Regions from separate parts of the Homo sapiens genome. Here all the other regions are linked to region 3. The links come from fine-mapping of genetic effects on gene expression. A gene starts in region 3. Each other region holds a variant in brackets. All regions are shown on one strand. Distances are between the middles of the regions. Region 1 overlaps LOC107986764 (a long non-coding RNA gene). Region 2 overlaps LINC03016 (long intergenic non-protein coding RNA 3016). Region 3 holds the start of LINC03016 (long intergenic non-protein coding RNA 3016).

Region 1 (10,344 bases), 35 kb before region 3:
TGGTGAAGCCCCATCTCTACTAAAAAAAAAAAATACAAAAAATTAGCCAGGCGTGGTGGCGGGCGCCTGTAGTCCCAGCTACTCGGGAGGCTGAAGCAGGAGAATGGCTCGAACCCAGGAGGCGGAGCTTGCAGTGAGCCGAGATCGCGCCACTGCACTCCAGCCTGGGTGACAGAGCGAGACTCCGTCTCAAAAAAAAAGAAAGGAAAAAAGTACTTGCTTTAATAATTCTATAAATAAAGTGACCACCCACTAATGTGTGATTTTTGTAAAGCATGGCATTTTTTGTAAAGCATGGTGTTTTTTGTAAAGCAGTATTTCTTATAGGAATCTTATGGCTCACACAGGAGTGGTAAGAATGCCAAATATGATGATGTATACAATCTAAACTAGACAGGCTGAAAGAATTTACACAATATAAAAACATACACTTTAAAAATTAGCCCTGTGGACAGATGCATGCAGTGGGAAGAGTAGGTGACAGAGGCTAGAGATCCTTTTATAATCAGTTGAGGGTCCATATGCAGTGAAATTGACTTTTTCTCTCCATTAAATAACTTTTACTAACAGATACAGGTATTTCACACACATTCAAACACAGAAGGATGAACTTTGACCTGCTACCTCTACAGTCTACAATGACACAACTGTGGTCTATCTGATACTCCCAGGAAATCATAAAGAGTAAATCCCATGCAACTTCCATGTAAGTAGCGAGAAGCATCGTCATTTATTCTAGATTGAACTTTGAAGATGTTTAACTTCCAACCTCGTATTTGTAAAGAACATATGTCTCCTTAGGCTACATTTTCTTCACAATTGACGTGCACTTAGAGTGGGGAAATTGTGATGACTTGTTTCACCTAACAGTGATAACTGAAGTACTCTTAAAAATGTGAGAAATTTTTAATAACATCTTTTATTAAACTTAACACATAACATGAATCATGTATAGCTTTAAGCCAAAAGGTAGAAGGGAATACATTTGAATTGTCATGCTTTTAGTTTTTATATTCTGTAGTTTCTACCACTGTCCCAAAGAATGTAGCTGATCACAACTGCTTCTTTACTTACCAAATCAAGAACTAGTTTGAATTCCTAGATTGGAGGAAATCCAAAATAAAAGAAATGCCACTTTTTTTAAATCCCTCTGGGACCGTTTTAGAAGCCAGACCAAAACTATCAATTATTCAAGGTTCCTATTAAGCAGTGGTTTGATTTTGTTATTTCCCTGTGTGTAATGGTCTAGAAGCAAACCAGGTAAAAACTTGTTAACACTGCAAGAAAGTTGACCTTTGGTATACTTCCCATAAAAAATCAGAAATCTTGAACAGCAATTCAGAGTCAGGTTTTTTTTTGTTTTTGTTTTGTTTTTTATTAAATATACCCCCAAGTATCCTGCTTTGCAGTAACTGTTATGGCAATGAGTTTTGGGGGGGCTATTCTTGAAAACTTATACCTAAAGATCCTCTTATGGAGATTTCTCTGGTTTTAAAACAAGTTGGCAGATTCTGTGAAACTAAAGAGAAAAAGTCTCTCTGAATGATTTTAAGCTACTGCTTGAATTGCAAATTCATATTGGGGAAAAAAACATTAAAGTAACTTGAAAGTCTCTTTTATTGGCAACTTCAAATGCAAAGTATTTTGTTTTTAAATTTCTAAAGCGTAGGTTAAGTAATATAGCTTTCCAAAGCTGAATGTACTCATCTGGAGCTAAGTGTTTCTGCTTTTCTACAACTCCTAGGTGGAAACGCTACTGTTTTGATGACCTGTGATTGAATGAATGGATCCATCTCAGCTGGTAGCATCCCTTTGCTTCCATGTTAAGTATTTTAAAAATTCTAGAATAGATGTGTCTCGCCAGTCTTAAATAGAAATTTCATTCCAAATGTCTCCGGAGAGTCATATACCATTTACAGGAATCCATCTTCATTCTTGTCATTTTTATACACCTTGGAAACCAGTGTGGAAATGCTCACCATACTATTTCTGCTCACCAACAGGAAGAAGGCTTGATCAGTATTCAGCTGTAAGCACCTTCTAATTATTTTGATTAGTTACTCATGTTGACATGGTCGGGTATGAAAGGCTTGGTTTTATCCAATAAAGGAGGCTGCTTCTCACCCCTTGTATCTTTCTGTTCGCCTTGGGATTTTGGTAGGATGTTGCCCTCTGGTAAGTTGGACATCTACTCTTTGTTCCAAGATGTGGTGCTGCTGGAAGTTCCCCTATGCATGCCGCAGGAGGGTGGTTGGCAGAGGTGGCTCTGACTCTGGTGACATTGACTGCTCTTGTAATTCCTCATCCCCTCAGCCAGGTCAGCTAGAATGGACTGTTTATTATGTGACAGTGACCAGAAAGGTTATATTCCTTGCCTGAGAGTTCTTCCAGGGCTGGCTTAGAATGGATCTGCAGGGCAGGTTTAAGGGGGAGAGGTGAGAAACAAAAAATGCTGTACTTTGCCTTACCTACAAAGTCCATCATTGAGTAAACCAGCCGCTCCAGGATTAGGAGTATTTGGAGACTGACCGGTCATATGCTAGGCAAGATGGGTCTCTTTTTATCTCATTTATCTCATTTCAGGGGCAGGACAAGTTCCACAATGCCACACAGCATGTGTTTAGGAAGAGGCTTTATTGGAAAAAGGGACAAATTATTGGGAAACTGGAAGAATTATCGAGGGAAGAGACCGCAGGTCTTCTCCATTCTCCCATCATCCCACAGAGAAGTATGCTGGGGCAGGGTGCCCTGCTGGATGTGCAGTGTGGGTCTATATTCCAACAGTGGAAACTAACCCCTTGATATCTGTTGCAGGGAGAGACACGCTGCTGGAGGCTGCAGTTTACAGACTTTGTCTAGGAATGCTAGTCTGCTAGTCATGCAGCATGTGGCAACCTTGAGATTATGGGAGATTGTGTCGGGTAGGAGGGACGGGTTGGGAAGGGGGCTGGTCACTTGAGCAGCTGGTGTGAGTGCAGCCTCTCATACTGTGAGAAGGAGCCTCCCATCCCAGCTGGCCCATTGTCCTGGCAACCAAGAATGAGAATTTCGAGGTCACTTCTGGCTCTTCTGATGATTGCCCCTACAATCCGGGGGAGAGCAAAAAAGAGGAAACAGGTGAATTCCAGCTTTCAGGCCTAAATAATTGCATATTTACAGGAGGAGCAGGACGGAAGCAGGTAGGAATTCCAAGAAGAGAACATGGGGGAAGTTTGAGGAAAATACAAAGGTATTTATATTAAAAAGCAGCCACCATTTCCTTGGTTGCACAGACAAATGAGAATGTATTGAAAACTGAACTGATAAGCCTGCCAAATTCAAATCATTTCATCAGCTATTTTCTGATAAAGTGGGTTAGAAGATAAATGCCTATTCACTTGTTTAAGATAAGAAATACGAAAATGTGCTCTTTTGCCCTCACCCCATTCTCAGAATAGTAGAAAAGGAAACCAGTAGTTTCAGTACTGTCATAAATGTATTTAATGGAGTTGCTGCCTGGGCATCCATTTTAGACCTAACACAAGTTACTGGAACTCAGTAGTACCCCGTCGCATTCGACCAGGTGAAAACTTCCTCTCCCTGTGTGGTTGTTTACAATATAGCCCACTTGTTCCTCATCCCACAGCTGCTGGCCATGATAAAACCTAATGGCCCACACCAGAGTTAATAAGTTCCCCCTTCATCTGTGTTTTCTTTAAACCAGACAATTCACAACCCCCTCAGGAAGGCTAATGGGCCTTAATGAAAGCCTCGTGACCACATGTGCTCTCTCCTCTCTCGCTCCCCGCTTGGTGGTTGAGCTCCCTGTTGCCTCCAGACTTCTGTGGCCTGCCATCGGGACCCCTAACCTCTCTGGGATATGTAAGTCATACATTTCTTCTGTTTCATGCAATTTGGTTTCACCTTCTCATTTTGTCTCATGACCAACACACTTGAACCAGGGCTCTCCTAGCAAGCGGCTATCTTGGCTTATGGCCATTCTCCACAGAGATCTCAAGTCCAAATTAGAAACTATAACAATAAAAATCACAACACAGTACCTATAGTTTTAATGTTCAGCTAGTAAATAATTTAGTCCACAATGCCTTAGGACTGAACCTTCAGCAAGTCAGTGTAGGCTATGAGGCTGAGAACTTGCATTTAGAGATGATATATGGGCAAAGTTAGTCGTCACAGCATTTTGTTTTGAAATAACAGGATTGCAAATAACTAAAATCATTATTAAAAGGGTAGTCATTACATAAATTATGTTATACAATTCAATAGAATATAATGCAGCTGTAAAAAAAAAAAAAAAAAACAAAGTGAGGGCTGGGCGTGGTGGCTCACACCTGTAATCCCAGCACTTTGGGAGGTCGAGGCAGGCGGATCATGAGGTCAGGAGATCGAGACCACCCTGGCTAACACGGTGAAACCCTGTGTCTACTAAAAATACAAAAAATTACCCGGGCATGGTGGCGGGCGCCTGTAGTCCCAGCTACTCAGGAGGCTGAGGCAGGAGAATGGTGTGAACCCAGGAGGCTGAGCTTGCAGTGAGCTGATACTGCACCACTGCACTCCAGCCTGGGTGACAGAGCAAGACTCCATCTCAAAGAGGAAAAAAAAAAAAAAGTGAGGATACTTTGTTATTCACTGATTCTTAATGACATCCAAAATTCATTCTTAGGTTAAAAACAGGTGCCAAACAATGTACAGTCTATGCTATCACTGGCGTAAGAAACAATGGTAGTGGTGGGGAGTATATGTAGGCATGGTCTTCGATAACACATAGAATATATTTGGAAAGATATGCAAGAAACAGTATTCATTGCCTCCGGAAGGGGTCACCAGGTGGCTGGGGGCAAAGGTGAGTGCTATCTTGTCAAAATATCTTTTGTGTCTTTTGAACGATATGAATGTATTATTTGCTTTGAAAAAAATATGGTTTAACAACAGCATATAAAACGTTACATATTTTCTTTTTCAGACAAAGTTTCTCTGCATTTGTTCATTGTCTTTCACTAAAATTTCTGTTCTTTTTTTTTTTTTTTTTTTTGGATTCTTTGTTGAAAGACAGTAGTGTGTAGTTTTAAGTTTGGTGAAGAGTGTGAACTTTGGAGTCAGATAGACCTGGGTGGAGAGCTGGTTCCACCAATGAATGGCTGTGGGAACTTTTGGAGCCTGCCTTACCTGAATCTCAGATTTCTTGCTTACAAAATGAAGTTGGGAATACCTTTCATAGGGCTTATTGTGAGAAGTATATCAGGTAAATCTATACAAAATCCTAGCAAAGTTTCTAAGAAACTCTAAATGCCCAAAAAGTGATAGCTATTACTACTATTGGGTATAATTTAATGGTTAATTTTTGCTTTGCCATGCTGAAATATGAACATACTGAGAGGGTTTGGGGCTCAGCCAGACCTAGGGCAATTTGGTCATTTTCATTTGTCATAGTAAATGTCAATAAAGTCTAAAGATGAGAACTGTGTGAAAGCTATAGGTAGTTGTATTCTATTTTGCTGCATAATACTTCAGAACTTAGCAGTGCTGAGCAAATATTTACATTCTTTCAGTTTCTGAAAATTAGGAATCTGAGAATGGCTTAGTTAGGTGGTTCTAGCTCAGGGTCTCTCATGAAGCTGTAGTTAAGCTGTCATTTGGGGCTGTGGTCTCTGAAGGTTTGACTGGGGCGGGAGGATCCACATCCAAAATGGCCTGCTTGACTTGGCTGTTGGCAGGAGACCTCAGGTCCTTGCCATGTGGGCCTATCTTAGGCCTACTTGGGTGTTCTCACAACATGGCAGCTGGTCTCCCCCCAGTGAGTGGTCCCCCCTAAAAAAAGCAAGGGGATCTTAGGCCGGGC[G/A]TGGTGGCTCACGCCTGTAATCCCAGTGCTTTGGGAGGCTGAGGTGGGTGGATCACGAGGTCAGGAGATCGAGACCATCCTGGCTGACACGGTGAAACCCCATCTGTACTAAAAATACTAAAAAAGCAAGGGGATCTTTTAGGACAAGGGCCAAAGTCATACAGCATCACTTCTGCCTTATTTGATTCCTTAGAAGTCGGTCACTAAGTCCAGCCTATACTCAAGAGGTGAGGAATTAGGCTCCTTCTCTTGAGGGAGAAATAGCAAATAATTTGTGGACATATGTTTTAAAATACCACAAAAGAGTATCCTTATAATTTAACATTCAAACTTGGAAACTTTTAGAAGTGAAAAGTGGTGTTATTAAAAACCAAGACTGGACAGTAAGTGCAAACTGGGACCCTCCTGGGCAAAACAGGGTATATAGTTACTGAGGTGTACATCTTTCTACAACCTCTCATGAAAGTCTCAGATCAAGAGGTGTACAAATACCCATTACAAGCAGACTCCCAAACAGTCATACTTCTTGCTCTGTAAGCTCAGTGTAGTCCTGATACTCTGATCATCTAGGAACTCTAGTAGCCACTTTGCCTGGAAGGCTAATTCCCAGGAAAAATGAGAAAGTGTTCTGACTGAAAGATCAGCTAACTTTCTAATGGTGTCAGACAAGAAAACCCTTCATTAAGGGGAGGAATGCAAGATAGGGTTCTAAATTTTAGGAGTCTTTTCCCAAGGTGTTAAGCTCCCAGGCTCTTCATTTCTCACACTTCTGTTCATCCAAGAGTGGAGGCATATCATTCATTTCACTATTGAAAATGGTCTTATATTATCTCTTCTGAAACTCTTTAAGTGCAGATTCAGATAGCAAGTTTTGAAGCTCTGGCAGAATTATCCAGAGTACAGCATCTTTCATATGCAACCCACCTTTCAAGTGTGAGTTTAGAGTGTACTGAATGTTAAGCATCTTCTTGGATATAGATTAACACTAATTTAAACAGACACCTACATACCACATTATCTATGCTGAAGTACCTTAAATTTCAGGCAGCATAAAAAAACTCAGTAACTGGGTTTCCAAGTAACCAACCTTCAGTTTTTAACAATTCCATTATAAAGAACTATCATTTCAAAAGGAAAATGAAAGTTACAGGCTAGAGAAATTCAGATTCATAATAACAAATTTTTTTTCCTACAGAAATTTCTATGTAAAGTATTTTCTTTAATAGTGGATAGCTACAAAATTCTCTCCCCCGTCCTTATTGAGGTATAACTGACAAAAATTGTATATATTTAAGATATACAATGTGATGTTTTAATAAACATATACTTTATGAAATAATTCCCCCATCTAATTAACAACCTATTCCTTACTTCACATAGTTACCTTGTTTTTTGGTGGGGGAATGGGGGTGTGTGCAAGATCTACTTAAGATCTACTCTCTTAGCAAATTTCAAGTACGCGGTACGTTATTATTAACTGTAGCCACCATGTTGGACATTAGATCTCTAGAGCTTTTTGAGAGCTTGTACCCTTTGACCAACGTTTTGCCGTTGCTCACCTGCCTCCCTGGCGGCAACCACTATTCTACTCTGTCTCTGCAAGTTCAACATTTTTAGATTCCACATTCTATGAGTTTGACTTTTTCAGATTTTAGAATTTTAGATTCCCAGACCCTGACAACCTCAATTCTACTGTTTGTATGGATTCAACTTTTTTAGATTCCATCTTAGATTTTTTATTTAAGTGACATCATGCAGCATTTGGCTTTCTGTGTCTGGCTTATTTCACTTAGCTTAATGTCCTCTAGGTTTATCAGTGTGCTTACAAATGACAGGATTTCCTTCTTTTTAAAGGCAGAATAATAATTTATTGTATATATACCACATTTTCCTTACCCATTTATCCATTGACAAATACTTAGGTTATTTCCATATCCTATTCCATTGGCTATTGTGAATAACGGTGCAATGAACATGGGAGTGTAGGTATCTCTTTGAGATGCTGATTTTATTTCCTTTGGATATATCCTCAGAAGTGAAATTGTTGGATTATACAATTTTTATTTTAGGTTTTATTTTTAGGTTTCTTGAGGAACCGCATACTGTTTTCCATAATGGCTGTAATAATTTACACTCCCACCAATAGTGTACAGAATTCCCTTTTCTCTGCATCCTTGCCAATATTTGAGATTTTTTGACTTTTTGATAATGGCCACCCTAACGTGTGTGAGGTGATGTCTCCTTGTGGCTGTGACGATTAGTGGATGCTGACCAGTTTTTCATATAGCTGTTGACCATTTGCATGTTTTATTTGAAAAAATGTCTATTCAGATCCTCTGCCCGTTTTCAATTTTTTTTTTTTTTTTTTTTTGCTCTTGAGTTGTATGAGTTCCTTTTATATTTTGGATATTAGCCCCTTACCAGATATATAGTTTGCAAATATTTTCTCCCATTCCGTGTGTTGCCTTTGCATTTTGTTGATTGATTCTTTCACTGTGCAGAAACTTTTTACTTTGATGTAGGCCCACTTCTTTATTTTTGCTTTCATTGTCTGTGTCTTTGGTGTGATATTCAAAAAATCACTGCCAAGTCCAACATTAAGGAGGATTTCTCCTAGGTTTTCTTCTAGTAGCTTTACAGTTGAGGTCTTATGTTTGAGACTTTAATGCATTTTGAATTTATTTTTCACATATGTAAGATAAGGGAACAATTTCATTCTTTTGCATGTAGATATCCAGTTTTCTTGGCACCAAATTTTCTGAAGAGATTATTCTTACCCCATTGTGTATTGTTGATGCTTTTGTCAAAGATTAGTGACTATATATATGAGATTATTTCTGGGCTCCGTGTTCTATTTTTCTATGTGTCTGGTTTTATGCCAGTACCATGTTGTTTTGATTGCTATAGTTTTGTGATATAATTTGAAATTAGGTAATGTGATGCCTCTAGCTTATTTTCCCCCCCTTTGGTGTCTTTTGTAGCTACATACACATTTTAGGATTTTTTTGTTTCTATGGAAACATGTGATTGGAATTCTTTTATGGATTGCATTGATCACTTTGGGTAATATGGACATTTTAACATTAATTCTTCCAATCCATGAACATAGGATATCTTTCTACTTATTTGTGTCATCTTCAATTTCTTTTGTCAATGTTGTGTAGTGGTCAGTGTTCAAATCTTTCATCTCCTTGGTTAAATGTATTCCTAAGTGTTTAATGCTTTTTGATACTACTCTAAATGGGATTATTTTCTTGACTTTTTCCCCCTAGATCATTCATTGTTAGTGTATAGAAACCACTTACAAGGTGCAGTGGCTCACAGCTATAGTCCCAGTGCTTTGGGAGGCCAAGATGGGAGGATCACTTGAGGCCAAGGGTTCAAGACTAGCTTGGGCAATAAAGTGAGAGAGAATGAGAATGTTACCTAATTTCGTATGTTGATTTTGTATCCTGCTACTTTACTGAACTTGTTTATTAGTTCAAACAGTTTTTTTGGTTGAGCCTTTAGGACTTCTACATACAGGATTATATTATCTGCAAACATACAGTTTTACTTCTTCCTTTCTGATGTGGATGCCTTTATTTCTTTTCCTTGCCGAATTACTCTGGATAGGACTTTCATTACTATATTAAATAGAAATTCGGGAGAATTGGGTATTGTTGTCTTATTCCTGATCTTAGAGGAAAAGCTTTAATCATTTTGCCATTGAATACGATGTTCGCTGTAAGCTTGTGATATATAGCATTTATTATTTTGAGGTATATTTCTTCTATACCTAATTCATTGAGAGTTTTAATCATAAAATAATAATAAATTTTTTTAAATGTCTTTCCTGCATTTCTTGAGATGATCATTTGGTTTTCTTCATTCTGTTAATGTGATGTATCACATTTATAGATTTGCATGTATTACAACATCTTTGTATCCTCAGGATAAATCCATCTTGAACATGCTGTATGATTCTTTTAATGTTCTGTTGAATTTGGCTTGCTAATATTTCATTGAGGATTTTTGCATCTATATTCATTAGGGTTATTAGCCTGTAGTTTTCTTTTCTTGTAGTGTCATTGTCTGTCTTTGATATAAAGGTAATGCTGGCCTCATAAAATAAGTTTGAAAGTGTTCCCTCATCTTTAATATTTTTGAAGAGTTTAAGGCGGATTGGTTTTTTTGTTTTTTTTTTTTTTAATGTTTAGTAGAATTGACCAGTTGAAGCCATCCTGTCCTGAGCTTTTTTATTGGGAGATTTTTGATTGCTGATACAATCTCCTTACTCATTATTAGTCTGTTCAGATTTTCTATTTCTTCATGATTCAGGTAGGTTGTATGTTTCTAGGAACTTGTTCATTTTTTTCTAGGTTATCCAATTTGTTGGCACTTAATTGTTCATAGTAGTCTTTTATCCTTTTTATTTCTGTGACATCAATTGTAATGTGTCCTGTTTCATTTTTTATTTTGAGTCTTTTTTTCTTAACTATTGCCAATTTTGTTTATCTTCT
Region 2 (10,344 bases), 22 kb before region 3:
TCTTTTCTCCTTCTAAAACTCCTATAAGGTGTATATTTGTTCACTTAATGGTGGCCCATGAGTCCTGCAGGGTTTGTTTACTTTTTTTCATTCTTTTATTCTTGTTCTCCTCAGAGTGAATAATTTCAAAAGCCTTGTCTTTGAGTTCACCAATTCTTTCTCCTGATTGATCTCATCTGCTGGTGAAGTTTTCTATTGTATTTTTTTTCATTTTATTAATTGTATTCTTCAGCTCCAGGATTTCTATTTGGCTTATCTATGATTTCTATCTCTTTGTTGAACTTCCTATTTTATGTCTTATTTTTCTGATTTTGCTGAGGTATCTGTGTTATCTTGTATCTCACTGAGCTACCTTAAAATAATTATTTTTAATCAATTTTCAGACAATTCTAGATCTCCATTTTGAGGTGATTAGTAACTGGACAATTATTTTGTTCCTTTGGTGGTGTCATGTTTCTTTGCTTTTTCATGTTTCTCATGGCCTTGCATAGATGTCTGCCATTGGAGGGAGCAGTAAACATTTCCAGATTTTATGGACTGGCTTCAGTGGGGAAAGCGTTTCACTTGCAGGTATGTGTTAGGGTGCTGGCTGGTGGGGTGCAGTGGCTGCAGTTATGGGGAGGGTGCAGTGGTGCAGTCTCCATGTAGCTCTGTCAACTGAGGTCACCATCTGTGGAGACTGTGGGAAACCTTGGTGGCCTAGGCTATGGGAGTCTGCAGTGGCAGCAAGGGTTATTGGGGAGCTTTGTCTGATACTCAAATTTTGGCATAATTTGGCCCAATGTTATCCTATAGAAAAATAATATGAGCAACATATGTAACTTAAAATTTTCTAGTGTGCACATTAAAAAAAGTAGGCACAGATGAAGTTAATTCTAGTAATCTGTATTATTGAAAATATCTTGTAATGCACAATCAATATAAAAACATGTGATATTTTACTTTTTAAAATTAAGTGTCCAAAATCTGGTATGTATTTTACATTTACAGAAAATTTCTCTTTAGACTAGCCATATTTCAAGTGCTGAGTAGCCACGTGTAGCTAATGGCTACTGTATTAGCATAAACTAGTCCTACTCTATTGTGATCCCTTAAATTTCTGTCAGCCACATCTCTCATTCTTCCCTGAAAACACTCTGCTATAGTCTGAATGTTTCTGTCCTCCCCAAATTTATATGGTAAAATCCTAATGTCCAAGGTGATGGTATTAGGAGGTGAGGCCTTTAGAAGGTATTAGATAATGAAGGCTCCACCCTCATGACAGGTATTAGTATGCTTATAAGAGATACACCAGAGAGCTAGCTAGCCCCTTTTACCATCTAAGGATACAGCAAGAAAGGTGTCAGTTAGGAGCGAGGAAATGGGCTCTTACCAGACACTGTATCTGCTGGTGCCTTGATCTTGGACCAGCATCTAGAACAGTGAGAAATAAATTGCTATTGTTTATAAGCCACGTGGTTTATATTTTGTTATAGAAACTTGAAAAAACTAAGACACTTCAAGATTATCTGCCTCATATTTTCATAGGCAGTGTTCCCTTTTCTTGGAAACTCCTTAGTCTCAGCCCTTTAAATCTTGCCTACCTTCTAGTATCATCACAAATGTAAGACCAAACTTTTCCACCCAGATGAAATGTTTATTCACTTACTTTTTCTGCCACAGATTATCATAATTTACACATACATTTTATTCCTTTTTGTTACCTTCTCAAGAGAAAGTATTGAGGCTTATTTTTGTTTTTCTTCTCAGGCCTAACATATTGCCTTGTATGTACTGATTACTCAATAAACATTTGTTGTTTTAAGTGGATTGTGTTGAATTCACTGCAAAGGAAGAGAAACTATCTATTGAAAAGCAATTGATAGTAAGTAAAACATCTGCCAAACCAATATGTTTTCTACATACAGGAAAACCAGAGAGCTGTCTTAGTTACTCTATAGCCTAAACAACAGTTAATTATATGGAAATTGTTCACAATATGTGGTAATTAGAGTTCTCATCTTTAAGTTGATGATTATATTTTATTTAGCTATTATTTAAGACTATGCAAAACTCTCCCTCTCCATTTTGTTTATTGTCTACTAAGCTAGAATATTGTCATTTATTAGAAAACTGTCATTTATATAAGGCACTGAGGATTGTTGAAAGGGATGGAAAGAAATGGGACCTGCTTTGAAAAAAAATTTATAAAGTGATCAAATCTCCCTGAGTCTCATTCTACATAAAAAGAGAATTTCAGCTGTTCTAGAAAAAAAAATAGTGAAGTAGCACTACAGCGCTAGCATAAGAGCCAAAGAGGAAAGAAACATGAAAAGCAGCTCAACCGTCAAAGACAGGTTTATTTTGGAGAATAAACCTGAGAGGGGCTTCTGGCTGATTTTTGGTTAGGAGCCTTCTGTCTTACAGAATAAGTATTTAAGGGTTCAGGGTGAGAGAACTTACCACAGGCTTGGAATGTTTCTGGTGGGGGAGAAATTTATTGCAGGGTTGGAATGTCTCTGGCTGGAGGGGAGGTTATCTTGGGGCTGACATCTCTCTGGCTGGAGGGGAGGTTATCTTGGGGCTGGCAAGTCTCTGGTTGGGGAGGGGTTTATCTTATGGTTGGAATGTTTCTGGTAAGAGATGTCATTTGTGGCTTATGGTCATTCTGACCTTAGTCATTAGGCTGATGCCCTTGGATTTACGAGGTTTTTGATGAAGGTGAACATTAAAATGGCAGTGCTTGTCCAAGATGGCGATGTTCCTGCTCTGTCAACTAGACTTTCTCCTTCTGAGTTCTATCTTTTGCCCTCTGCTTGTTTCTGTCTTCTGTGAGGCTGCAAAAAGCACCAATCTGCCTGCCGTGTAGGCATCCCAGAGCTGAGGATGACCTAAGTTCCTTCCCCAGTCAAATAATATGACAAATTACCTTATACCAAAGAACTATTTACTAATAGTCTCTAAATTATTACTTTTCGTAGGTATTTTCACTGTACTTATTTTGACAACAGAAATGAAACCCTTGTGGATCTCTGACCTACCCTGAGTCACATCCTTTGAACTCTCCTATTGTATTGCAGGGAAGAACACGGTTTCTTTTCTTTTACCCTTCAAGGTTCTGTTGCTGGGGCCCTGTAAACTAAATTGACAAAAGATCATGCCTCAGCCTCCTGAGTAGCTGGGATTATAGGCGTGTGCCACCATGCCTGGCAAATTTTTGTATTTTTAGTAGAGACAAGGTTTTACCATGTTGCCCAGGCTAGTCTCGAACTCCTGGACTCAAGTGTTCTGTTCCCCTTGGCCTCCCAAAGTGCTTGGATTAAAGGTGTGAGCCACTGTGGCTGGTCCAATTTGCTTGTCTTATAAGCAAAATGGTTACATCAAGCCTGCATGATATTCCCAAAGGCAAAAGTATGGACACCAAGGGTTAAAACATGAAAGAATTTTGTAAAGTCAAGGTATAACTATTGCAATAAAGATCATCATAAAATATAGAACTATAATACAATACCAGGAAAATTTTAGCTCATTTTCCTTTTAGCATTAAGCATATTTTTAACCTTTTCCAAACATATCTGTCATGTTCCTATTTTTGAAGAACTCAGAGGGGCAGATGTGTAATTACAGTGATATTCTGAGTAGTCCTTCATGCATAAATAACAGTTTCAACAACCAGAATCTTATAATCAAGGACAAGTCCTTAGCCACAACTTGTGGAAAAGTGGGATTGGGACCAAGTAAAACACCAAAGGATCAGATCTTCATTGAAAAAGTGAAAAAGCAACACCCACATGTATCTTTATTTCTATTGGTACATTCATTTATGAATTTTCCATTCACATATTGTCCTGAACACTCCCAACACAAAGTTGACATAGGTAGAGGAGAGAAAGTCACATGGGAGAGAGCCGTCTTACAAATTAAGACATATCTAGTCATTGGGAAGGAAGTCCCTCCTCCACTCCATTCCCACCACCATCCCAAGCCTCACCACGGAGTAACCTAGTATCTCTACTCTCTCTTTAAAAAACAACAACAACAGTAACAACAAAAAGGTTCTCACTATGTTGCCCAGGCTGGTCTTGAACTCCTGGCCTCAAATAATTCTGCTTCAGCCTCTCAAAGTGCTGGGATTACAGGCATGAGCTACCATGCCTGGCGTCTGCCACTTTCTTTACTGTTAATAGGATCCATGAATACTATAGTGAAAAGCACAAGAAAGACACCAAACTGGTTAAAAATAAGAGGCACAAAATTACCTAACTGAATAAAATTCAGTGCTCTATCATAATAGATTCTGTGTGTCTTAAAAATGAAATCATAGATTTCCAAATATTCAAAGGAACTT[A/T]CAAATTCTATTAAACTTACAGATATGTTTATTGGACTATTTCCCCTTGTTAGACTGAGAGAAATAGGAATCATTTATCTAAATTCTTCACATCACATTGATTAATGAATGCTTTCATTTATCTAACCAGTATCTATCCAGTGAGGCTGTGAGCAAGTCACCATGTTAGGCTCAGGATGGGGGTTGGGGAGAGAATTGCTCAGAAACTTTATAATCTGATGGATGCTAGTGATTTCTTAGGATCTTGATTATGATGTTATCAAAATCGATCTACATTTTTAAAGAATTCCATATCATCTAAGGGACCTCAGGAACCAAAGGCGTGCATACTATGGATCCTCCATATTTTCTAATTCTTTTATTCCTTTGAAAAAAGCTGTCTATAGAGAAAGATCTTATTTATTACTGGTTAATTTCAAAAAGGTTTTGAGGTAGCAGAAAACGGTCTCCAGCTATAAGTTGAAAAAAGGAGAACAGCACAAGTGCAGTAAAAAAAAAAAAAAAAAAAAAAATCCTACATAACCAGACAATGTACCAAGGCTACATCTGTCCCTGGAAAAAACTCAGTATTCCTATAGGAAATCACTCTGCCATTCAAAAGCTTTGCTAAATATAGTCAGGCAGCAGAGCCTAGGCATTAAATCAGTAGGGCTGGTTTGTTGATTATGAATGGACTAAATTCAGGAAGACATAGTGTCCTCTAGGAAGGCCCCATCTACCCCTTGCCTATGTATCACCCTACTTTTTATCTAGGCTTTATCTGTATTGGGGAAAATTGTTCCCAGTTACCACTTCCCTGGTACCTTAGTGGTGCTGAGAAAAGCTCCCTGCATGGAGGAGCAAGGCAACACCCTACCATGTGATGCAGCATCAGTGGAGTGGGGTAGGTGGGGAGAACCACTTTGAGGGCTGTTTTTGGGACTCATCATGGACAAAACAGATCCTTTGTAGGTCAAGGAAAATAAATGTGTTGGGGATGGGAAAAGATAGACACATGAAGAAATATTAGAAGGATTCTCTGCTTTTATTTGAATGCATGTTTTCTTATTGCTTCTACATCCAGAATGAGTTTTTGTAGGCTAGCTGGCTCTTCAGTTCTCCAGTAATGAAAGTGAGATGGAATACTAGCCAGTTCAATTAATCATTGATTTTAATGAATGTTCATTGTGCACCTTTTATGTGCCAGGCTCTTCCAGGAGCTGGGAAACAGCGGTGAACAAGACGAGAAGCTCCTCTTCTGGGGTAGGGTGGGAGGATAAACATTCCAATAGGCAGCATCCTGATCATCTCGATATGCCCTTGACCGATATATTCAATATTTTATTTGTTGGTGTATTCTTGGCCTCCCATCCATATACTCTACTTATATAGGACATGACAATAGGCCACTTATTCTCAACTCCCTGGACACTTAGTCTCAGCCATGTTGTACTTGCTCTTCTTAGTCATCCTCATGGTCTTGCTTTCTGTCTCATTCACTCCTATGCATTGTCTGCAACAGAAGCACAATGAGTAGTTTTTAGGATTTAACCAAGATCTGAGGCCTGAGGTTCTACCCCTGGCCTTTTCATTCTCATAGACTTTCTGGCTCAACCATACCCCTTGCTTTGCCCAAGCCTTGCTATAAGCCCTCAGCTCTTACATGTGCCTCTCCCAGTGTTGACTTGTATATACACTGTCCTGCACCTGCTCTTACAACTGACCAATAGGTGACTTGCAGCACATGTACCAGTGCTGAGAAATGTCAATATCTGTCTTCCTCTTTGCCTGCAAGCCTCAGTAGGAGTGATGCCCATCTACCATGCTCCAAAACATCTCAGCCCTATTGAAATTATTATCATGTGAACAACTACCCTCTTTAAAAACCAGAATAAGTTATTAGAGACTTGGATTTAAATACCTTAGGAATGGTGAAGGTAGAAGACAAAGCCCCTAACCCCTATACATGGGCATGTACTTGCTGGAACAAGCTTGAGATTGTACCTTGAGCTGGAACATTTGTGAAGCACTGCCCTGTCACACCTCTAATTTATTACCACCTGCAGATATTGTTTAGGCATCATATATTACTCTAAGAATCACTACTACTTGCATATAAGGTCATTTTTACCCTAACGTAAAAGTAAATAGTTGACAATGATCGATGAGCAGTCCTGGGTAGTGTTCTCTAAGAGAAAAGACCAGAGTGGCAAAGATTTCCTGCCTAGCAACCCCTCCCTTTTATGAACAGGTACTGTGACTTGTCTTGGATTTCACTTCCTACTCCATTCCTTCTATTCCCCACTCCTAAATGGTAATTTAGGACATTTACCAGTCTGCAAGAGAGTTTGAGGGGGAAACACTGTCCTAAAGGGCTATAAATGAAATCAAAGGCATGGTCTCTGGGGAGTCTCTCTATGTCAAAGAGAGTCAGATCCTCCAGGTACTTAGATCTACTGGGAAGATCGGACAGATTCATGAAGTAGACAAAAAGTCATGTAAAGCCACGTAACAAACAAATGCAAATTGAAACTAAATGCCCAGTATGACTATAAATTCTAGAGAGACTTGAAATAGAGATGTAATACATAGATGACAGTAAAAGAAGGCTTGCTGGAAACAGAATCCTCTCAAGATTGTGGGTATGGTGCCTCTTGGCAATCTGCACCAGCACAGCTGCCAGAAAACAGGAAATCTGGCCAGAGATGCTAAGAAAAAAAATCCAATGTCTGTGACAAGCTGTCAGACAGTCATTAGCATTCCCCTGACCACAGAGGAGCTCAAATTTGAAGGTCTCGCCTGATCAAACACACTTTCTGAGTAATGAAGTATTGAGCCAATCCTTGGAATAAAAAGCCTGTAAGTCTCCTTGGAAATATACTGCCATTTGGAACACGTTCATCTCCTGCTTGTGGGCATATCCCCTCTGGGTCCGTTTGCTTTCTAAATTTCAACTATTAAAATGGAAATAAATGATTTGCTATATCTAAGGTGGGACTAACATCTGATCCATGTTCGGTCTTCCAAACAGGGTACTAAAGGTGTTGGTAGTTCTGATGTAATAAATAGTACTTAAGTTGACCTAATACATTTCTGAATAAGAAACTATTGCAATTGTAAAACAGGTAGTTTAAATAGGATTGATCACTTTTTCCTTTTGATAAATTTACCTACTTGTGTATTATGCGTGTTTTAAATGCATTTGCTTTTTATTCAAAGAACAGAAATACCACTTTTTTCTACTTGTCCAAATTTTAGAAAGCTTATTCTTATTGCACATTAATGAACAAATATATACTGAGATTTCCTAAAGGAAGTCACCGGAAACGGGTCTGAGCTCTATACTTGTTGCACTATCAAAAATAAACACTAAGTTTACCTAAGGTAAGTTGCATTTATGAAACAGCATGACTCCAGGATGAGAACACCTGGGCTGCTGCCCCATTTTTAGATTCTCAGGAGTCAGTAATTAATTCTCCATAACTCATCTTGGGTGTATATCCTTAGGATTTGCTCGGATAACAAGGAGTTTTTTAAGAAACATGCTGAGTGAACAGCATTGTTGGAGGTGTTACTTCCTTATTCAGCTAATAACTTGGCTTCTAAGGGGTAATACCCAAACCCCAAAAGCTATAAGAAGAATTGAATTAGTGGCTATAAGACTATGATTGCTGGGGTGTGTATATCCTTGGACTCAAAGTCCTAGAGGATTATAACATAGCAATTCCTCCCCAAACAGATGTAGGTTCCTGAAAACACCCAGTGAAGTACTATTTGAGGCTGAAGAACTTAAAACCATACACAAAGAAATAGAAAACACTTGGCAGACTCAGGTTATAAGTAAGCTTTAAATCTCTTATATTTTAAGGTTTACTAAAATACAATAACAAAAACAGAACCCCAAATAGAAATTATGTTCGTATTATTTTACATAAATAAGTGATTTATAGTTAATTTCCATTTTTCATTCTTTTGCTGGAAATTTAACTGGAAATCTCTGCATTTCAGTAAGAGGTATCTAGTTTCATTTAAAAAATGTCATGGCTCAAGGCTTTCATCAGAAATCACGTGTCATCCCCCTTTCAGCTCCTCCTGTCCTTAGTCATGCTGTTTTCTTCCTCGTGGCTGCAAGATACCTACTGCATCTGTCAGCATCAGGACCACTCACAAGGCAGGAATTAGGAGAAAGCAGAGGGAAATAGCAACATTCTTTTCTTTCTGAGGCTTTGTCCCCTGCTGTGGAAGGAAAGCCTCTAGAACCCCATTCACCTGCATCTCACTGGTGTCACATCTGCCCCTTAGCCAAAGGGGGGTCTAGGAAGTTAAATATTCTGAACTGATGACATTTCTGCCCTAAACAAATAAGTATTTTATTACAGAAGAAGAGGAAAATTGAATCCTATAGATAACTAGCCATATTTACTGCAAATCTTTTTCTGAATTTTTTACTCTGAGGTTAACACCCATCACCTACTTCCCAGCATCCCAGCTCTTCAGTACTTCTCTTTACTCATATATCCTCGCATGCTTTGGTTCTTAGGCCTTAGGTTACTTTCCATTATCTTCTTTTATCTTTTCAGTATTCCATTACACATATCTCTATTCCTTTCCTTCCAACTTTCTCTGCCTCCTTTTGTCTATGACTAATTTGTTGTTTTTTTCTAAGTACCCCTGATAGGAGCTGCTGTTAATCCAAAATTCTTTTGTTAGCCAAAAACATACCCAGAAATAAATTCATGTATATCCATTAGTCAGATATTTTTATATCTATTAAGTTTTATATCCATAAAATTTGTGTGAGTTTGCTAGGAGTTCCTCCCAAGGGGGTGGCACTCAGATAGGTCTTTGGTTATAGATGGAGGGCCATGAGCTCAGGTGACCCAGGTGACTGGGCCGAAGAGGCAGAGTCCTTGTGGAAAACACAAAGGTCTAAGAGTAGGGTATCTGAGACTGGCAGGAGCCAGGGCAGTATGGAGATTGGAAAAGGGTTGTATGAGGAACTTGTCTTTACAGTATTAGTAAACATGCTGCAGTACTTTGTTGATTTCTTGGTAAAATTGTGAAAAAAATTATATGCATCCAATACTGTTGGATGCACTTGTTGGAAGTAAGAAGGGGTGGGTGGCTGAGATACCAAAGTGAACAGCCAGACTGACCTAGACACAATGAGAAATGGAAGCATCAAGTCAGCAGAGGAGAGCCTCCCAGACATCCTGCACAGCATGGGCAGTGTGGGAGAACTCCAGATGTCTTTTTTCCCAAGAAGCAAGCTCACACACCCCCGTGGACCCCTTGGGACCTGGGGATGAAACTGTGAGACAGACTTTCTTCTTGGGAGAAGCAGACATCTGGTAGTAAAAACTACCTTTGAATCTAGACAATCTAATTGCTCAACTCTAACCAATGCACAGTTTAACAAAATGCTATACATGTAAGGATTTTCCACACTACCTACTTCCTTTAATGAAAATGAATCTGGTGCCCATTGGAATGTGAGAAGGTGTAATAACTGGACAAAAACAAGGACAGTAAGGAGGGAGGAAGGCTGAGATGTCGGGTGCAGGCCCCAACATTTTCGAGCAAGACTGACTGCCAATGAGGAAGGAAAAGGAGCTGCCATTGACAAATGGACGTACAGGACTGCCAGCTGGAAGAACACTGGAGGGAAGGAATGACACTGAGCTCATGTATTGAATGTTGACATGCTGAGCCTTCAAGATCAAATAGCTCATGAGAAAATGCCTGCTTGAAATGATTCTATGTTCAAAATGTGCTCTTACAATTTAGACATAGTTACTACATTTGTTTTATATCAACAGCAGTGATTATACAGTGCCCTAGCTTTTCCAGTTGCTTCTTAACACACATAGTCTATCAAAATCTACAAGACATGGTTTAAAATGAGAGGTAAATGAATGCTTGCATTAGGTTTTGGTTACATTTAGATCAGGGCAGTGGGCTTTGTGTGTTGAGTTGCTGCTATAGGAACGGAAGTTAAGTACCAGATCTTTGGAAAGTTGTGCTGAGTTTGAATTTTG
Region 3 (10,344 bases):
GCTGTGTGCCAACACGCCTGGCTAATTTTTGTATTTCTAGTAGAAATGAGGTTTCATCATATTGCCCAGGCTGGTCTCAAACCCCTGGGCTCAAGGGATCCACCCGCCTCGGCTTCCCAAAGTGCTGGGATTACAGGCGTGAGCCACTGCACTTGGCTGCCACAAAACTTTTCATTACAGAAGTTACTGAGTGACCTCCCCCAAACTCTACAAATTCCCACAAGAAGCTTAGCCTCCAAAAGGCGAGCTCGTTTGCCCTGGACAGTTCATGGCTTTATCTTTGGTGAATGGGCATTTGTTGTCTTTGAGTTATGTTCTTTACTTCCAAGTCCTTATCCTTAATTGGTCATTTTGGATCGACATGTCTGAAAAGTATTATCAGCCCTCTGTAATAGTTAAGTTGGAGAAGCCATCTCTATACACTGAGTTCCTGCGGGCAGGATTGTATCTTTTCCTCTCTGCGATCCCAGGACCAGCAAAATACCTGGGGGCAAATCAGTCATTCCTATGAATGTAATAGGACTTGAAGAGTAGAAGGAAAGTGAGGGAAGGGTTAATGACAGACTTCAAAAAAACCAAACCCTAGGTCAGGGCCTGGACTAAGCAACACTTCAAAGTTGCTTCTCCTCTCAAAGCAGTTTCTTCTGTCTGTGCTTCCCCTAGTTCCTCACCACACCCTCAGTCTGGCTAGTCCTCCCTTCACAATGACAGGTCAGAGATCCTTACTGAAAGATACGGTGTTTATTCTCTGTGAGAGTAATATGTTATAGTAAGCGGGAGATTTCACTCAACACCTGATTGGTGATGATGGAGAAGGGGGCCGGTCTTTTTCCACTTCTCTAATGGTAATATTTTCTCCCAACTTGCTTGCATGTTTACAGCAAGCTTCAGTGTATAGCTAAATTTTACCCAGTGGAAATTATGGGGATCGCAATATGCAATTTAAGTAAGTAACTCTTTAGTTACTTTGACCCAACTAAAATACTAAAGCAGAAAAAAAAAGGGGTGAACCAAGTTGCAGGCCTCTTCCTGCAAGCAATGTAGTGAGGTAGAAAATGGGATCAATGTACTTGTGTTCCCTCAAGATACATCTCCCTTCTCCATCCAAACTGTTGAACTAAATGAAGAGTGAGGTCCTTGAGGAATGAGCTTTTCCCCGTTTTGTTAATGGGGGAGGCTAATATTCCTGAAAGATAGCTCTAAAATGTTGTCAGAACAGTCAAGAGTTAACAGCAATTGTCCATGGCTCCAGAAGCCTGATTGTTACTTGTCAAATTGCTTCCGGTGTTCTTTCCCACATGAAAGAGGGGGGTGACTGACTGGCTATTAGGGCAATAGGGGATTTGATGTCTGTTTGACCACACCCCAGCCTCCTGGGTGTGATTTTGATTTATATTAAAGCTGACAAAATGAATCAAATGTTTGCTGACCTTGTGTATATAGAATAGCTTGGGTTGGATCTTGAGAGAAATTACCTGTTGGAGAGGGGAAAGAGAAAGTTACCATCAACACTCCTGATTTTATTTTATTTATTTTTTTTTTTGAGACGGAGTCTCGCTCTGTCGCCCAGGTTGGAGCACAGTCGCGCGATCTCGGCTCACTGCAAGCTCCGCCTCCCAGGTTCGCAGCATTCTCCTCCTTCAGCCTCCTGAGTAGCTGGGACTACAGGCGCCCGCCACCGCGCCCGGCTAATTTTTTTTTTTTTTTTTTGTATTCTTAGTAGAGACGGGGTTTCACCGTGTTAGCCAGGATGGTCGTGATATCCTGACCTCGTGAGCCGCCCACCTCGGCCTCCCAAAGTGCTGGGATTACACGCGTGAGCCACCACGCCGGGCCAAACACTCCTGATTTTAATACATCATGCCATAGGATGAAGTTAATTTTTAGCTCCGTTGAGAGGAAACAACTACCATCCTGCCGCATAGTAGAGAGTCTGGAGAAAAACAGTGTCAGCTGAAACCTCTACTTTCTTTAATTTCATTAAAAAATTGATCTCATTGATGCCATCAACTGTGCTTCTGGGTAAAGTCGCTGGTTCACATTTTCAGTTTCAATTTCCCTTGCTTCTCTTGCTTCAGTTTCAGTAGCAACAGGAAGTTTGGGTAATTCTATATCATTTAAATGTGAAGAGGAAGAAAGAAAACCCTTTATAAACACATCCTGATGAGTGAGTGTCAGAAAATTCTATGCAGAGACGTGGAGTAATCAAAGAGCAAATTCAGAAAATATTCTCTAAGTTTAGGATTTGTAGACTACTGAATTATAAATTTATACTGATTAATACATAGCAAAGGTTACATTAATATATTAAATCATGAATTTATATTATCTTGAGGTGATTGACCCTATGAGGTCACTTATAAATTGATTTTATGAGCACATAACACTTTATCTCTTTCCACCCTCTAAGTCTGTATATTATTAAAATACAGAAGACTAGACTTGATGTGTTTCAAAACTTCAGGCGCAGGTTAAGTTCCACCACTCAGTTCTGCTTCACTTGTTCTCACTCTGAGTCACTCAACCTCTGAACACGTTTTTCATTTGGTCAACTTATTTGAGCATTTGTCCAAGTAGCCTGAGTGGGTCTAAGTATAAGACATGAAATAAAGAGCTTGACATGGCAGAGACTGTCAGACTTTCAGAGAGAAAAAACAGTTTACTTAAGAATCTCAGAAATAGCTGGTCATGTCTAAGTTAGGGTCCCTAAGAAAATACAGGTGATTTCACTTTGTATTTCCCCCATTCCTTTCCCCCTTCCATTTCCGAAATTTGGTATTTTGAAAAGGATGAAGATCGATTTGGAAGTAGCTTACTTTAAAAAGGAACATAGTAACAGGAAATTGTAAAGTAACATTCTGTTAGGTTTCAAGGCTGATTTGTGTTAACAAGCTGACCACAGCCCTAAGACATGCTTGAAACCCTTAGTGCAGGGAGACAAAATAGGAACAGGGCTGAGCCTGATGCGGCCTCATTTGGGTTTGGTTGTTGCTGCCCCACTTGTAAAAACAATACAGACTGCGAAATAGACAGTCGTCCCTCAGTATCCTTGGGGTACTGGTTCCAGGACCCCCTCTGATACCAAAACCCATGGATGTTTAAATCTCTTATATAAAATGGTATAGTATTTGCATATAACCTATGCTTATCCTCTTGCATACTTTAAATCATCTCTATAATACCTAATACGAATGCTATGGAAATAACAGTTATACTGTATTGTTTATATTTTTGTCATATTATTTTTTATTGAATATTTTTGATCCACGATTGGCTGAATTCATGGATGTGGAACCCACAGATATGAAGGGCCTGATTGTACTAACTGATACCAGATCATTAGGCAATTCTCTTACTGGGGCTGCAGATCCAAAATCCAGACCACGTTTCTCTGAGTAAAGGTGTAATTTCCTCTGAAAAGACTAAATGTTTTCACTGCCAGTTTCCCAGGGGAGAGGTTGGTTCAGCAGGAATTTTGGGAGGAGGGTGTCCAGAGTGTTAGGTGAGTGGAAACCTTCCTCATTTCTTTTAGTGCAGATGTCAATTTGGCTCCAATTCTAAAGAAGTGCTGATAACTGAAGGTTTCTAGTGGGGTAGCTGAACTACCTTTGGTGACCTGGAAACAGGTAGCAAAGAGGGCAGAGCAGTAGCCTGGTAAGGGTGGAGAGGATTCCACTGGAGCTTGGCCGCTCTCATAAAGTACTATCTGGACCCTTTCTTTCATTATTCTGGAACGGTCAGGAAAGTCTGGTCTCTACTGTGGGCAACAAAGAGGAAAATAAGTCTTTTCCCCAGGGTCAAACAAGATGACAGAAGTCACCAGCAGAAGATGGTAGTGCCCACTGAAGCAGCAAGTTAACTGGAGTCACTGTCCCTAGGAGGCAGCCCAGGAATGGGCAAGAGGGCAACCCATTTCTGGGTACACATTACACTGTACCCTGGGAACCGCTGAGGATCACGAGGGGCATATTTTAAGGGTGGCTATTTCTGCCAGTAATGCTGGAAAGCATTCATGGCATAATGCCATGATATGTAGCAGAATCCACCACAGTGTCTGTACGAAATGTTTAAGTAGGTAATTCATTCTGTCAGTTATTAAGTGTTATGAATCTGAAATCATTAAAACAATGTACTGCACAAGAAATAGGCAGATAAGCAGACCAGAATACAGTTTATACACAAACCGATAATGAAATATCATGGGGTAATGGTGATTTAAAATAAATGTTGAAAGAAAGGATCGTCAAATAAAGTGTATTACAACAAACGGGTAGCCATTTTCCTACCTCACTCCATATAAGAAAATAAATTCTGGAGGGATCAAAAATATAAACACAAAAAATGAAACTATGAAAGTAAGAGGAAAACATAAGCATATTATAAATAAACCTTGGTGTGAGCAAGACACACAATTCAATAGCCCTAAGAAAAGATTAATTGGTTTGTGTGGGGAAAAAACAAGTACGAAATAATCATAACAGTTCTAATACATATAAATAAACCAATATTCAGAGAGTTTATAAAAATTTTTAAAAACCCTAGTAATTCAATATTAAAAACTGGCGAAGATGAAATGCAAATTACCAATGTATAAAAAAAACTCAAACCTTAAGTACAAATCAACAATTATCAGATATTAATGCAGTGATAAAACTAGTAAGTTCAATAATCAAAAACTTTGGTAAAAGGGGCAGGAAAATATACTCGCAAATGTTGAGTAGTAGTATAAGGTAGTACAGTACAGTTTAAGAAGGCAATTTGGCAGTATCTATGAATATTTAAATGCATACATTCTTTATCTCAGCAATTACTTGCTAGGAACTTATCCTATGGCTGTACCCACACAATCATTTCAAGGATGTTCAGTGCAGCAATAATTATAATAAAAGTATCCAACTCAATTATCAATAGAGGAATGGCTTAAAAATTGTGGCACATCCATACAGAGATCTAGTTAACTATTAAAAAGAATTATCTCTAAGTTATTAAACAGTAAGCAGAAAAGGCAAGGAGCAGAATGATGTGTTTAGTTTGGAAATGAGTACAGTTCTGTTATTTTCTGTTTATGGCTGGACAAAGGGACTGCTGGGTGGGGCTGTAGCAGATTATAGCTTTTCATTTTATATTCATTCTCTTTTACCAAGCACATACATTACCTTTGTATAAAAACTTAAAAATATTTTTAACAGGAAAGACATTATCCTCAAACCATGCAGTAATGCCCAACTTGAATATATTTATTCAAGATCTAAGGAAGGAAATTTCAGGGGTACTGGAGTTATTGAAAAATAAACCTAAAAACATGCCAATGAAAGAAAATGGCTGTGGGTCTCAGAAAAAAATGGTACACTGACTGCACCTGGGAAAAAACTGGAACTCTCGAAGAATTGAAGTTAACTGGGCTTTGGCAAATTTGTGAATATATCGACTCTTTCACATGAAGTTGTACCTGAGCCTTATTCTTTAAATCCAGTTCAAATGCCACAATTTCTTTGAAACTTCTCAGATCCCTAAACACTTAATATACAGTCCTCTTATAGTTCTTTGTAAATACCTCTATCATAGTCCTGAGGAGGCTATTTGTTCACTGGCATGTCAGCCCCCAACCCAAATGTGAGATCCTTCAGGCAAGCCTTAACCACAGGTTTCGCCCTCCTTTCTCTTCTATAGCTGACAAACCATGAGCCTGGTGAAAGTTTGTTGAATGGGTGATTTAATGACTGGAGGAAAAAAAAGAGCTGTTGCTTTTTTTGGATTTTAGGATAGAAAACTTGTAACTTGACATGTAAATTAATTATTAACTAACTCGACACAGTTTTCTCCTTACCAGTGTTAGGCACGACCCTACCTTTGTTTTGTCATCAGAGATCACTTGTTGCTTCAGTAACCAAGAGCACTGAGCTACACCAAGTGACAGTGCTTTGGAATGTCTAATGGTCACTGTAGAGAAAAGGAACCTGAGCTCTCCTCCCTAATAGCAAATACACACAATCTTCTGCCCACACTTGAGGTTTTGTTCTTTTTCTGGACTGTATTCTCCAACGTAAATGCGAGGTTTTTTGCCTGATGGTGTATGATACGTGGAGTTCAAATCAAGATTTTCTCAAGCAGAAAACCTGTTTAGGAGTCCCTCCATATCTATGAGAAAAGCATTTTGTTTAGAGGTCTCCATAAAAATGAAACAGAAGAAAGTAGGGGGCATATGGAGAACTTTTCTTCATAGTGAAAGGATGCTCACCATTTACTTCCTTTTAATTGATATATAATGTACATATTTATGGGGGAGAGAGTAATATTTTGATACATACAATGTATAGTAATCGTATAGTAACCTTTTTAAACTTTTTTGTTGTGGAGATGGAGTCTTGTTGCCCAGGGTGGACTTGAACTCCTGAGCTTCAGCCTTCTGGGTAGCTAGGACAACAGGCATGCAGCACTACACATGGCTTTGTTATTTAAAAAAAAAAATCCTATTATGTCCCAGGCACAATTGGAAACAAGACAGATTTGATCTCTGATAACAGTGCCTGGCAACTATTAGGATCGTTCCTAGAATCTATTTGCAAATGGTGGGAAAAGGCAGGGACCAAATATGTGAGTTCTATCTAGCAGTACAATGGGTCAAAGAAAAACAGAAAGAATGAATAAGATCTAGTATTTGATAGCACAATAGGGTGACTATAGTCAATAATTTAATTGTGTATTTAAAAATAACTAAAAGAGTATAATTGGATTGTTTGTAACACAAAGGATAAATATTTGAGGGGATGGATACTCCATTTTCTATGATGTGATTATTACTTGTTGCATGGCTGTATCAAAGTGTCTCATGAACCCTATAAATACGTACACCTACTATGTACCCACAAAAAATTTTGTTAAAGTACATAGCTCAGGTTGTTCAGGGAAGATAAGAAATTGCATTTAGTACAAAGACCACTAACCTGGGAGTCAGGAAAATTGAGTTCTGTTGCCACTTCTGGCATTATTTGTGTCATTTTTCTAAACTTTAACATCTCTAGATCTGTTTCTGAATCTTTCAAACGAGGCGTTAGAACATCTTTAAGCTCTAGAAATCAGTAGTCCTATATTTTTATGTGGGAAAGGGCTCAGTGTCTTCTATTTCCATGAATAAGAGAATAAGACTTAAGCCAGAACAGATCTAAGAAAGATATGAAAATAATCTGACACAAGGATTTGAGAATAAATAGTAACTTCCGAGTACTCTTCACCCTTGGAGTAGAAGGAGAGAAGGATGCTAAGACGGGTCCACATGAGGCTGCTGGTCCTTTGTATGGGTCAACTATTTACCACTCTTGAAGATGGATACCTCCTTCATCTACCCTCATTATGAACTAGTTCAGCAGTCTTTATACCCTTGATTGAAGAAAGTAATTTCTTATGGCAAGATAAAAGAATCCAAATCAGCTTTGAGATCTTTCCAGCTCATGTGTGTACCTGCTTACCTCTACTGCTGCTTAAGAATGTCTGTGGACATTCTTCACCACTGGTTGTAAAAACCCTAGGGAGCCAGGGCCAACAGCTTTTTTTTCCCACTTTACTTCTCTAAACTGTGACAGTATAAACATGATTTTTTAAAAGTTCAAAAAGGAAAACAGTGAATTATTGAATTTCTTTCCAATCCTAGTACCCTTCCCCAAAGGTACTGCCAACAGTTTTTGTATATTCATACATTTATAAGTTAAATCATATTTTTCCTTATTTGACATCATATCTATGTTTGGTCTTAATTCTGTCATCTATTGTAAATTCTCCCTTTAGCTCTCTTATATGGCCTGTGTTATCTTTAATTTTGTGTTTTCATTTTAATAGTTATCAGGCTTACAGTTTTGGTGATTACCTTCATAACTATTCAGAATATTACATCCCTATTTCTTGATATATTATCAATTTTACAAAATTTCTATTCTGAAAAGTAAAACCAATTAGGGCATGTATATATTACCTCGTCTTTGATATTCTATTTTCTAACTTGTTAATCATCTTTTCTATATCAAGATTTATAACATTTCAATATGCTTCCATAGCCTTATTTAAATAATTCTATAGCTACATAGTTAAATAATTAACCACCACCAGTCCTGTTCTCAATGTTTGTCCATTTATCTCTTTAGATGGGCTTCATCATCTAGATTTTTCAAGAAGTGTCCACCCTCACTCTTTCAATTTACCCTTCCATTTGAAATCACTTGGCTTCTTCCTCCCCCAAGAATCTGGTAGAGTTTGCTTCACTCTGCTTTAGCACTGAATGTTGCTACAGAGAAGCCTAAGTCCAGTCCGTTCTTCCTCTCTCCATCTCCCCCTCCCAAAGAAATCACTCAATTTTGTTGCTGCTAAGATGACATTCCCCTCTCCCTGCCCCCAGGACAATTTGCAGATTTTGGCCACATCAAGAGCAACTGTATTTTTTTGAAATTATAATGTTAAAATTAGCATTTGTTACACGATCTCACTTTAATAAAACCATTTCTATCTATTTAGCTTCCTATCCAATTTATATTTATGCATTAATTGGAATTACTTTGGGGGGTGGTGGGGTTTGGGGTCCTTTAAAAATTTTCATCTTTGAAATGGTCATCTGCAATGAATGTTTAAGTTTTTTTTAAAATAATGGAGCTTATCACTTTTTCAATGGAAAGATGACTTATCTAGTAAAAGCTGGTAGTAAATACACAAGATACAATGATGCGTACTTTTTTGTACGTTTTGAAGAAAAACTAACACAAAAGAAAAATGTTAAATGTTTAAAAAGAGGAAACAATTTCTCAAACACCTCCTCTTGATTCTGACAACTTGGGTGGGTTAATGGGCTTATGTCATAGAAATGGCATTTTCCCCCCTCCATATCAGGACACTTCATAAACTTTAACAAGAAGAATAAGCCAGAAGTTTTCTTAGCAATATGAATTAAGAGTATAAAAGCCATTGAATGATGTGGATGGAAGTTTTTACATGGTTATGGCTGCATATGGAAATGAAATGATTTAAATTGGCCCCTTTCGAGAAGAGTCTCTTGCTTCACACACTCCATTCTTTCTTCTATGTAGCATCTGGTACTTTCAGTTCCCCTTTTGTGTAAAGTGCTGGAGGTTAACAAAATACAGTAGTTCCCCCTTAACCACGGGGGGATACATACCAAGATCCCCAGTAGAAGCCTGAAACAGTGGATAGTATAATCCATCCACCAGGATTGTAGTAAGAATTACATGGGATAATGCAATGTAAAACAATTAGCACACTGCCTGAGAGTATAACTCTACTGCACACAACTACTTTTTTGGGTACTTTGCTTCTAATAGAAGGTGAGTTCCTTGACAGCAACAAATATAATTTGCCACTTTATCCCTATTATCTAGCTCAATACTTTTAGTAGGCACTCAAATGTTGGTTAAATGATTTGGAGCTAAATTGTCTGGCGTTTAGGTAAGGAATAGCAATTTTTTAAAAAGGGAATACATGCTAGGTCAGGCTGTGGAAGGTCACATAATCTGAGGTTATATTCATTTTATTCAACAGGTCATAGTGACCATTTTTAAGATGTGAGAGAGGACTGCCTTAATACTGAACACTGAAATCTTTTATCTATAAAGATTAAGTTTTTCTCCCCACTGGTTTTCAGGTATTTAAGCACCCATATTTTCACTGAGTAGGTTCTAGAAGGAAACATTTCCTTAAGAAAGAGGAAACTGCAGGATAATGTGGGCATCGATTCTTTGAGTGCTATCTCTTCTTTCTTTCAGCAACTTCTAGGCTGGTGAGAGGGAACTGAGGTTCACAAAAGATACACAATTTTTTAAAAAGTCTTAAACACATCCATTTTGATAGAAAATAGAGGCAGCCGGGCATGGTGGCTCATGCATATAATCCCAACACTCTGGGAGGCCAAACTGTTTAAAGACCAGCCTGGGCAACACAATATGACCCTGTCCCTACTTAAAAAAAAAAAAAAAGAATGGGGGCAATAAAAAGTCTTAAGAAACTAAAGACTTGCTGCTGCCAATCAGAAGAAAAAGAAAGGGTAAAAGAAAAAAACATGGAATGAGAGATGAGTAGGAGAAGGTTCCAAGAGCTATAAATTCAAAGGCCAAAAAAGAGAGAAATTCCGTCAGGCAAGTAGGTTTGTAAAAATTACTTTAAAAATCAGGAATTATATCTGTGGCCAATTATTCTAAACACATAGTTACCTTCACTTCATCAAATAAACCACTTATTATATAAACCTAATCAACATGAAAATGCAGTGGTTTTAATACTTCAATTACATTAAAAATCCAGTTATTAAAATATAATCATAACCATCCTTTTTCTTTGTCTCTGACATAT

Evidence for each region. PIP is the estimated chance that this variant, and not a neighbour inherited with it, causes the effect. A credible set is the group of variants that fine-mapping cannot tell apart.
Region 1: its variant is the best candidate, but not a certain one, in a credible set for the expression of LINC03016 in whole blood (INTERVAL, PIP 0.70).
Region 2: its variant is the best candidate, but not a certain one, in a credible set for the expression of LINC03016 in whole blood (INTERVAL, PIP 0.88).

The regions. Positions count from the first base shown.
Region 1 is chr7:7,285,407-7,295,750 of GRCh38, reverse strand. The region is part of intron 1 of LOC107986764 (a long non-coding RNA gene); the gene reads right to left. Among named protein-coding and RNA genes, the nearest start is that of LINC03016, 35 kb to the right of the region's middle. The variant G/A (reference allele first, on the strand shown) is at 5,843.
Region 2 is chr7:7,273,060-7,283,403 of GRCh38, reverse strand. It overlaps LINC03016 (long intergenic non-protein coding RNA 3016), which reads right to left. Exons shown (of 4, transcript NR_108073.1): 4 at 5,335-5,819. All of the region lies in intron 1 of LOC107986764 (a long non-coding RNA gene), which reads right to left. Among named protein-coding and RNA genes, the nearest start is that of LINC03016, 23 kb to the right of the region's middle. The variant A/T (reference allele first, on the strand shown) is at 4,328.
Region 3 is chr7:7,250,683-7,261,026 of GRCh38, reverse strand. It overlaps LINC03016 (long intergenic non-protein coding RNA 3016), which reads right to left and starts at 5,873. Exons shown (of 4, transcript NR_108073.1): 1 at 5,849-5,873; 2 at 1,431-1,475.